Linked DNA regions of Homo sapiens: region 2 is linked to region 1. Evidence: fine-mapped expression QTL. Tissue or cell type: prefrontal cortex. Region 1 holds a variant in brackets; the other region holds the start of a gene. All regions are shown on one strand. Distances are from middle to middle.

What was found. PIP is the estimated chance that this variant, and not a neighbour inherited with it, causes the effect.
Region 2: it holds the start of RBM22, and the variant in region 1 is fine-mapped to the expression of RBM22 in prefrontal cortex (BrainSeq, PIP 0.95).

What each region holds. Positions count from the first base shown.
Region 1 is chr5:150,898,301-150,902,565 of GRCh38, forward strand. ZNF300 (zinc finger protein 300) reads right to left here. Exons shown (of 6, transcript NM_052860.4): 4 at 128-254. It also overlaps a transcript of IRGM not described here. Among named protein-coding and RNA genes, the nearest start is that of ZNF300, 4.5 kb to the right of the region's middle. The variant CAT/C (reference allele first, on the strand shown) is at 2,092.
Region 2 is chr5:150,699,040-150,703,039 of GRCh38, forward strand. It overlaps RBM22 (RNA binding motif protein 22), which reads right to left and starts at 2,023. Exons shown (of 11, transcript NM_018047.3): 1 at 1,893-2,023; 2 at 1,405-1,458; 3 at 203-232. The coding sequence starts at 1,946. RefSeq lists enhancers at 1,265-2,041, 2,042-2,818.

The DNA of each region.
Region 1 (4,265 bases):
CTCCATTTGCAAAGGTATGAAGGTCATAAAAGTCATGACATATGTCAGGAACAATCTAATCACAGCAACTAGTAAGGAAAGGCACTTGATTGGACAACTCTGAGTTATTCAGGGAAGCCATCCTTACCCATTGAGACCAGGTGGCTGTAGTTCTCCAGCATCACATCCCTGTACAGGGTCCTCTGAGAAGGGTCAAGTTGCTGCCACTCCTCCTGGGTGAAATCCACAGCCACATCCTTGAATGATACTAACCCCTGTAATAGTAAATTCCTGTTCAATCTGAAATGATCATTCTCATAATTTCTGCTATAATGTGCACAACTACATCCACACCTAGTTTTGTATAATAGTTTTTGGGAAAAACAAAATAAAATCCTGTTTTTAGCAAGCAGAGCCAGGCATATGAGGAGAAAAAAAGAGGTAAACCATAAAATGCCTACCTAATACATATAGTAATTTCATACATTTTAAAGGCAGCATCCAAATAACTGGGAGGAAGATGGATTATTGGATGAATCGTTTTGAAACAATGAATAGTAAAGAGGAAAAGAATAATGCTGAAGAAATATTATGGGTTGAGTTGTATCTCCTGAATATTTATATGTTGAAGTCCTAACCCCCAGTACCTCAAAATGTGATATGACTTGGAAACAGGGTCATTGCAGATATACCTAGCCATATGAGGTATTTAGGGTGAAACTGAATCCAATATGATCTGTGTCCTCATCCAAAGGGGGAAATTTGAACACAAAGACATGCATAGAGGGAAGATAATGCAAAGAGAAAAAAGAAGATAGTTATAAAGAAGCCAAGGAGAGAGGCATGAAACAAATACATCCCTCACAGTCCTGAAGAACAACCTTGATTTTGGACTTCTAGCCTCCAGAACTATGAGACTAAATTTCTATTGTTTAAGCCACCCAGTTTGTGGTACTTTGTCACAGCAATCCTAGCAAACCAATACACTATATAATACCTGGGAAAAAGAATAGATTCTGATGGAATAAAAATTTAAACTCTAAAAAGTACTAAAGGCCATAAAAGTAACAAAATAAGACACAGGAGAATTTTAATTAATGATTATAGAGCAGAAATGCCCTTTGTAAGTACATTTTTTTTTAAAAAAAGAAAAGCTACATTTAGAGAATCATAGAATGTCAGAGCTCTAGAAGATCATTAATCTAATCTCTTTATTTCATAGGAAAATGATCTTAGCTTCCCCCAAATGTAATAGCTTTCTTATATACATACAATAGTTAGTAATAGAATGAATATACCAATTACAGTAGCAACAAAAAATAAGGAATCCCAAATGATAAACTCAACAAAAATGTACAGAAAACATTAATGAAGAAACCACAACAAATTAGTGACATAACATCAAAAATGAATTTGGGTAAGAGTAGAGTTATAAAATGTTTCTGGAGGGAACATTGACTATTTTAATTATGTCACCATTATCCTCACAATAGTTGTTAACTAATAGCAGAAACTAATCTAATAGTGATCTGTATTATTTTAAATAAATTGTTCAGACTTTTTCCCCAAATATTCCATAATTACCAAACACCACTTTCAGAATGAAAATGATTATTTCAAATGTCAACATTGCCTGCTTAAAAGCCTCCTTTGTTTTCTTCTTTGCTAACACAGTCTCATCTCAGTCATCTCAAATCTCAAGCTTTCTCTCATCCCACACCAATTCCATATTCACTCTGTCAAGCTGCCAAACAGTTAGTTGTCCATAACAATCCTGTTAATTTTCCTATTGTACATATAAGAAAACTGAGGATTACAGTGGTTAAGTAAATACTTGCCAAAGATGATTACATACTAAATATATGATTGATGAACTCTCTTATCTGCAAGATTTATTCTCAATAGTCTAGGTTCTTGACTACTGCAGTCCAAACTGCCTCCCTGATACTGTAAACATCATGATCTTTTATATTTTATCACTTCAATACCAACCTTAGTCGACCTTTCCATGAAGCACTCTCCATTTTAGTTTCAAAATTCTCAGCCTTCCTAAAATCACTCTGCCCTTTCTACTTTTACAAATGCTGCTTCCTGTCCTCAGCCTACTTCCCT[CAT/C]GAGCCAAAGTTCAATAATCATTTAAGCCTATTACCTACTTCCTTAGAAATCTGGTTGTTCCCCCCTCTCTGCTATAACAGTACCTGCTCCCATGTCTGCTACAGAACTTTTATGTGTTAATGTTAGTTTCTACATCTCTTTACATCTCTGCCGATGTGTTAATGTTGGTTTCTACATCTCTTTTTTCTCTGCAGTCCTTCCAGAAGAAAACTATACGTAAATCTGCTCAGGATATTCAACAGCTAGCCAGTGCATATGACATATACTGGGTACTTAAGAAACGTTTGTTAAATGAATCATGATTATAAAGAAAAAATAAATTAAAACTTATGTTTAGTTAAACACTGTTTTGTGTATTAGTCTAATTTGTTTTATCTGAAGAAAAGTAACATAAGAAAGATAATAAATGTGGAATACAGAGGAAATCCATTCTGAGAGGTAAATTCATAGATGTTATCATTCTAACATTCTGATTTTGCTTTATTAATGATACCCAAATGCTTCAAAATAATAAGTAGGTATAAATTTCTTAATTTTGAGGAAAATATAGTACATAATCAGTGAAAAATTATACTTTTGTCAACTACAAACAATTTTTACAGCTCAGGTCCCTGGGGAAATGGAAGTGCTATTAAGTGATGGAAGAAATGAAAGGGAAGTAGGTGTTAAAGGCTGAAAAGGAGGATATGTGTAAAAACGACTTCACTTCTGGATGGTAGGGAACTAATATACAGCCCTCTTCCTGAAGGAAGAAGCATTTAATCAACTAATTAGCCACAGCAGTTGGATTTACTGGGCTAAGTAAAAAATCCATTCTCCCTCAAAGCAGTGCTGTGTAACAGAAATATAAAGCTAACCAGATAGGTAAGTTTACATTTTCTAGGAACCACATTCAAAAAATTATTTTCAATAATATACATTTATTCCCATATATTACTCAAGATATCGTTTCAACATGGAATCCTTAAAAACTACTAGTGAGTTTTTTGGAAATATAACTTTGAAATCTGGTATGTACTTAACATATCTCAATTCAGACTAGCCAATTTCAAGTGTTCAGTAACCACATTTGGCTGATGGCTACTATATTAGACAGCACGGCTCTAAAACAAAGCTACTGAAATCCAAAAACAAAAACAACAATGAAAAAATCTTTTTGCAATAGAACTCTAAACTCTACTGTAAAATATACACAAGGACTCCTAATGTAAAAGCTGATTTCAAGATTTCACAACGATAATCATAATGATGATGTAATAACAGCTGACACTTAAATATATCAGTACAAACCATGCCCCAGTTATGGTTTTAAGCATGGTTTTTACTCAATTCTCACAACAACCCTATGGGGATTATAATCTCTATCTGTAAGATGAAGAAACAATCCCAGGCAACCAGGCCACAAGGAAATATTATGCATCTGATAAAATAGTAAAGGAGAATTCTATGTACTGATATGGAAAAAGATATTCTAAGTGTATACAAAAGACCTTTATATTGGACAGTAAGTTAAAAATCAGGTTGCAGAACAAAATATTTACTATAACCTTCTTTTTCCAAAAGAAAAGCGCAAGAAAATAAGAGACATTCTCACACATTTGTACTTCTACATATAAACTGTTAATCAATCACAGTTATATTCATATCAAAAAAGGTTTGGAAGGTTAGAAGCAATGGTTAACACTGATTATCCTGGGAGAAGGTGAGTTTAAGTTAAAAGGTCTCTCTGTTTTAAATTTTTATCTTTTATATAATTTTAAATGTTTATATGCCAATGCTGGCAGAAAGAAAAAATAATACAAACTTTTAAAAATGGGAGAGCAAAGAAGGAACAGCCTTGAACTTGACACTAATCCTACAAATTCTGAAAGCACAGCAAAAGATATGGAGCATCAGGGACCTTTGCCCTCCAAAGATTTGCCAGATAAATATAATTTAAGAATGGCTTTTTTGAGAGAAATACATAGTTTAGAAAAACATTCAAAATGTGCCTATCTTACGTTAATGAATTTACCTGTGGATAAAGCTGGACAATAGGAAGCATCTGTAATCAATTTGTTCCTTGAAAGCAGGGGTCAACAAACTTTTTCAGTAAAGTTTACATTTTTGGCATTGCAGGCCATACGGTTTCTGTTGTAACTACTCAACTCTGCCATTGTAGCTAGAAAAAA
Region 2 (4,000 bases), 200 kb before region 1:
GTAAGAATCTCTACATTAGAGGGTTCATTTTCTTACCTCCCACATAAACAGTTGCCAGCCAATGAATATATCAGTAATACATAAAAAGTTGTATAGCACTGATTTTTACTGGAAGACCTCAAAACTTAGTAAGCTGAAGGCTAATTTGGTAGAGAAAAGAAAAATGAAACAGAAATCATTACTCTTTAACAGACATACTTACTTTGCATTCCTTCCCATACTTTTCTTTGGTCTATAATAGAAAAAAAATAGAAAAGAACTGGAGTTACAGAAAGAAAAAAGCCAGATGTCTACTCTTTCCTTAAACATAACCCAAGAAATGTGTCTGGAAATCCCTGGCATCCTAGAGAGAGAAAAACAGCAACAACAAAACCCAAAACCCAACCTTTTTTGGGAAGAGGGTAGGGAACATACTATAACAACATATTATAAGTGATAACATCTCAAGAGTATATGGATCTGGGCTGGGTGGCAGTGGCTCACGCCTGTAATCCCAACACTTTGAGAGGCCAAGGTGGAAGGATTGCTTGAGCCCAGGAGTTCCAGACTAGCCTGGGCAACATAGCGAGATGCTGTCTCTACAGAAAAAAGAAATAGAGTATATGCATCTAATGCTAGGTAAGTGAGTGTCTTTCCACAGCCACAACTCTTAGGTTCATTTTTGGCTCCCAAGTTCACTCCCAAGAACTAACATTCCTAATGCTTTCCACAATCCCTAAATCAGAGAGGATACAGCTGTGGCCCGCCCACTTTACAAAGTTTAGTCAAAAGGTAGCTACTGTAGACTTGTCCTGTGCCAATGCCCGGAATATAGTAAATGTTCTGTTTAAACAGAACTATTCAAACATCTTGAACCATTCAAACATCGTGAACATACTAACATATCAACACCTCTACGACTACACAATAATACAGCCCTAACCTTATTATTGTTAACTGGTTCTAATTTTACCCTAGTTTGTAACAAAGGGGGAATGCTTACTTTAAAGAGATAAAGTACACTGGCCAAAAGGCATTTGACCAGGATTCAGGAAACCTAGTTTCTAGTTCTGGTTCTCCTCCTATCATGCTGACATTCCTAGAGCCAGAATATGTGAACTTAAATCCCAGCTCCATTCCTTACTATTGTATGAAAAGACACAAACGCTCTCACCTTCTGGTCAACAGACCTATTTCCTAGGTAAATGCTCAACAAATACTAGCTATCGTTATTACCCCTACATTACAGGAGTGTTACCGGATTCGTAAGAGAATACACATGACAGTTCTTTGCAAGTCGTCCAGCACTTCGCGTTAGTAAAAGAGCATCATTTTTTCTGCTTGTCTAAGAGAAACACTTCACAGTGTGCAAGTACCACAACATCGACAGGACATGAATAACTCGTTTCACACGCGATCACTCACCATTCGGATATATGGGTTTTCTCCAAGACATGTCTGGCACAGAATGGGGAAGTCCTGGTGAAAATGGGAAATCTGGTTGAGGACCACCCTCCGAAGACCCTGACACCTCAGTGACACTTGGGGTGGCGAGGGGGCGGGAAGCGAGGGTGGGGAACTAGGCACGGCAGGAACCCGAAGTCCATCACGACCCGATCGCGGGAGGGGGCGCTGTCTGCACTTCCGGCAGGCGGCGGGAGAAAAGAAAACCAGCTCTAATAGGCTGGAGGGGGCAGGGATGGAAAGGGTGCTGGTCCCGGGACCCTGGCTAAGCCCCCTCCCTTCAAGCCCGCAGGAGGATCGCCCTCCGCCCTCCTGCTCCGGCCAAGCTAGGCCGCCGCGCTGGCTCCTCCCCGGTATTCCTTCGGCCGCGCCGCAGGCCCTGTCCTGCCAGCTTGCAAGGTGCGCGGCTTCGCCTCCTCCTTCCATCCTCCTCCGGCAGGCACACTCACCGCATCCTCCCAGTTCTGCCTGTTGTAGGTGTTGGAACCCAGAGAGGTCGCCATCTTGAGAGCGTCCGGAGGTAGCTGTAGCTTCCGAATTGGGAGAGAGGACCGCCACAATCCCGTCAAGCCCCGAGGCTAGCGCCGCGCCGGTCGGCGTCTTATTTACGCGTCTAGGGCTTCTTCCGGGGCGGGGCCTTTGCGTCATGACGTCGCCCGCTCTTGGAATTTCTAAGCTTAACAATTGGGGTCCTGGTATAATGCACCTGGATGCTTCCTTCGAGTTTTTGCCTGCTTGGAATGAAGGGCCACACGTACAGTTGATTCATTTAACAATTGGGCGAAAGAATAAAGGAAGACGTAATGCATCAGAGGCTGGGGTTAAAATAGCGTTCGCTACCACTGAGGCGCTTATTATGCCAAACTCTGGGCGAACGTCTTGCGGTTCCAGTGTCTTATTTATTCGCATAACCTCTCTGTAGGGCTCTCTGTAGGGCTGCCAGATTCTGATTCTGTCTCTCTCTCTCTCTCTCTCTCTCTCTCTCTCTCTCTGTCACTCACACACACACATGCACACACACACACGCACGAATTACAGAACGTCTAAAGTTGAATTTCAGATTAACGGCGAATCGCTTTTTAATTATAAATATATATGGTACCTACTCGTCCTAAAGTAGGATTCGTGGTTGACCTGAAATTCACATCACTTAACCAATCGTCCTGTATTTTATCTGGTAACTCTACCCTGTAGGCAAGTATGATGATCCCTCTTTTATAGAAAAGAAAACAGGTTTAGAGAGATTAACCTAATCTCTCCTGATATAGCTCCTGGTTGTGGAGCTAAAAAGTGGTGAAGCCACAAATTCATTAGTACTGTTTCATTTCCAGCTTCTGAAATGACAAGGGTCTTACGAATCAACATATGCATTATTTGATTTTTGGAATAACTCATAACCACTCTGCCAATATTTTATGAGTTTCAAGCCATTCTGGTACCACTTTCATACTTACCGTGTCATCAAGCTACCTAACACATTTATTTAAATCACCTCATTAAAAAAAAAAGTTGATTTAAAGTATAATTTACATAAAGTTTTATCCTTTTTAGTTTTGAATTTTGTACATACATTCACTTACAGTCAAATATGGAATTGTCTGTCATCCCCAAAGTTCCCTTGTTTCTGTAGTTAGTCCACTTATCCCATACTCAAACCATGGCAATCACTAATTTGTGTTCTGTCCCTAGTTTTGCCTTTTCCAGAATGTCACATAAGTGGAATCCTATATATCCTTTTGGATCTGATATTTTTTCACTTAGTATTTTGTAGTTGAGATTCATCCATATTATTACATGTATCAATAATTTCTTCCTTTGTATTACTGAGTAGAATTCCATTGTATGGATATATCATACAATTCACTTGCCAGTTGCTGGATATTTGGGTTGTTCCCAGATTTTAGTGAATATAAATAAAACCATTATAAACATTCACATACAGATCGTTGTATGGACATTGGTTTTCATTTTGCTTGTGTAAATGCCTTAGAGTGAGATTATTTGATCATATGGTAAGTATATCTTTTCCTTTATAAGAAAGTCCTTGGGTTTATCTGAGCTTCTTGGATCTGTGATTTGTTGTCTTTTATTATATTTGGAAAATTCTCAAGTATCATCTCTTCAGACTGTCTTCTGCCTGGTTTCTACATCTGTGACTCCAATTTCACATGCCTTGTGAGGAGTGCAAGGTCAGAAATAACAGAGTCCACGTACATTTGTGTTTTTCCACAATGCCAGACTTTTACTGATGCTATTTCAATCACAAAAGCCACGAACTACATGGAGTTTCCAAGAAAGCAATTCTCCTTAGTACTTCCCACTCACTCAGCACTCAGAGTCTTGGACACACAGGCTCAAGGCACTCCACAGGTCAATCAATATTGCAAATCATGCATAATGGTATACTTAATCAACATATATATTATAGAGTGAACATTCCACAAACAAAATAACATTTAACATTAAGAGAAAAGAGATAGGACCCTTTTCTCCTTTAAGTCTGGAGCCCTCAGAATCATCTCCTTTCCTTCCTTTTTCCCTCTTTCCTCCCCCAATT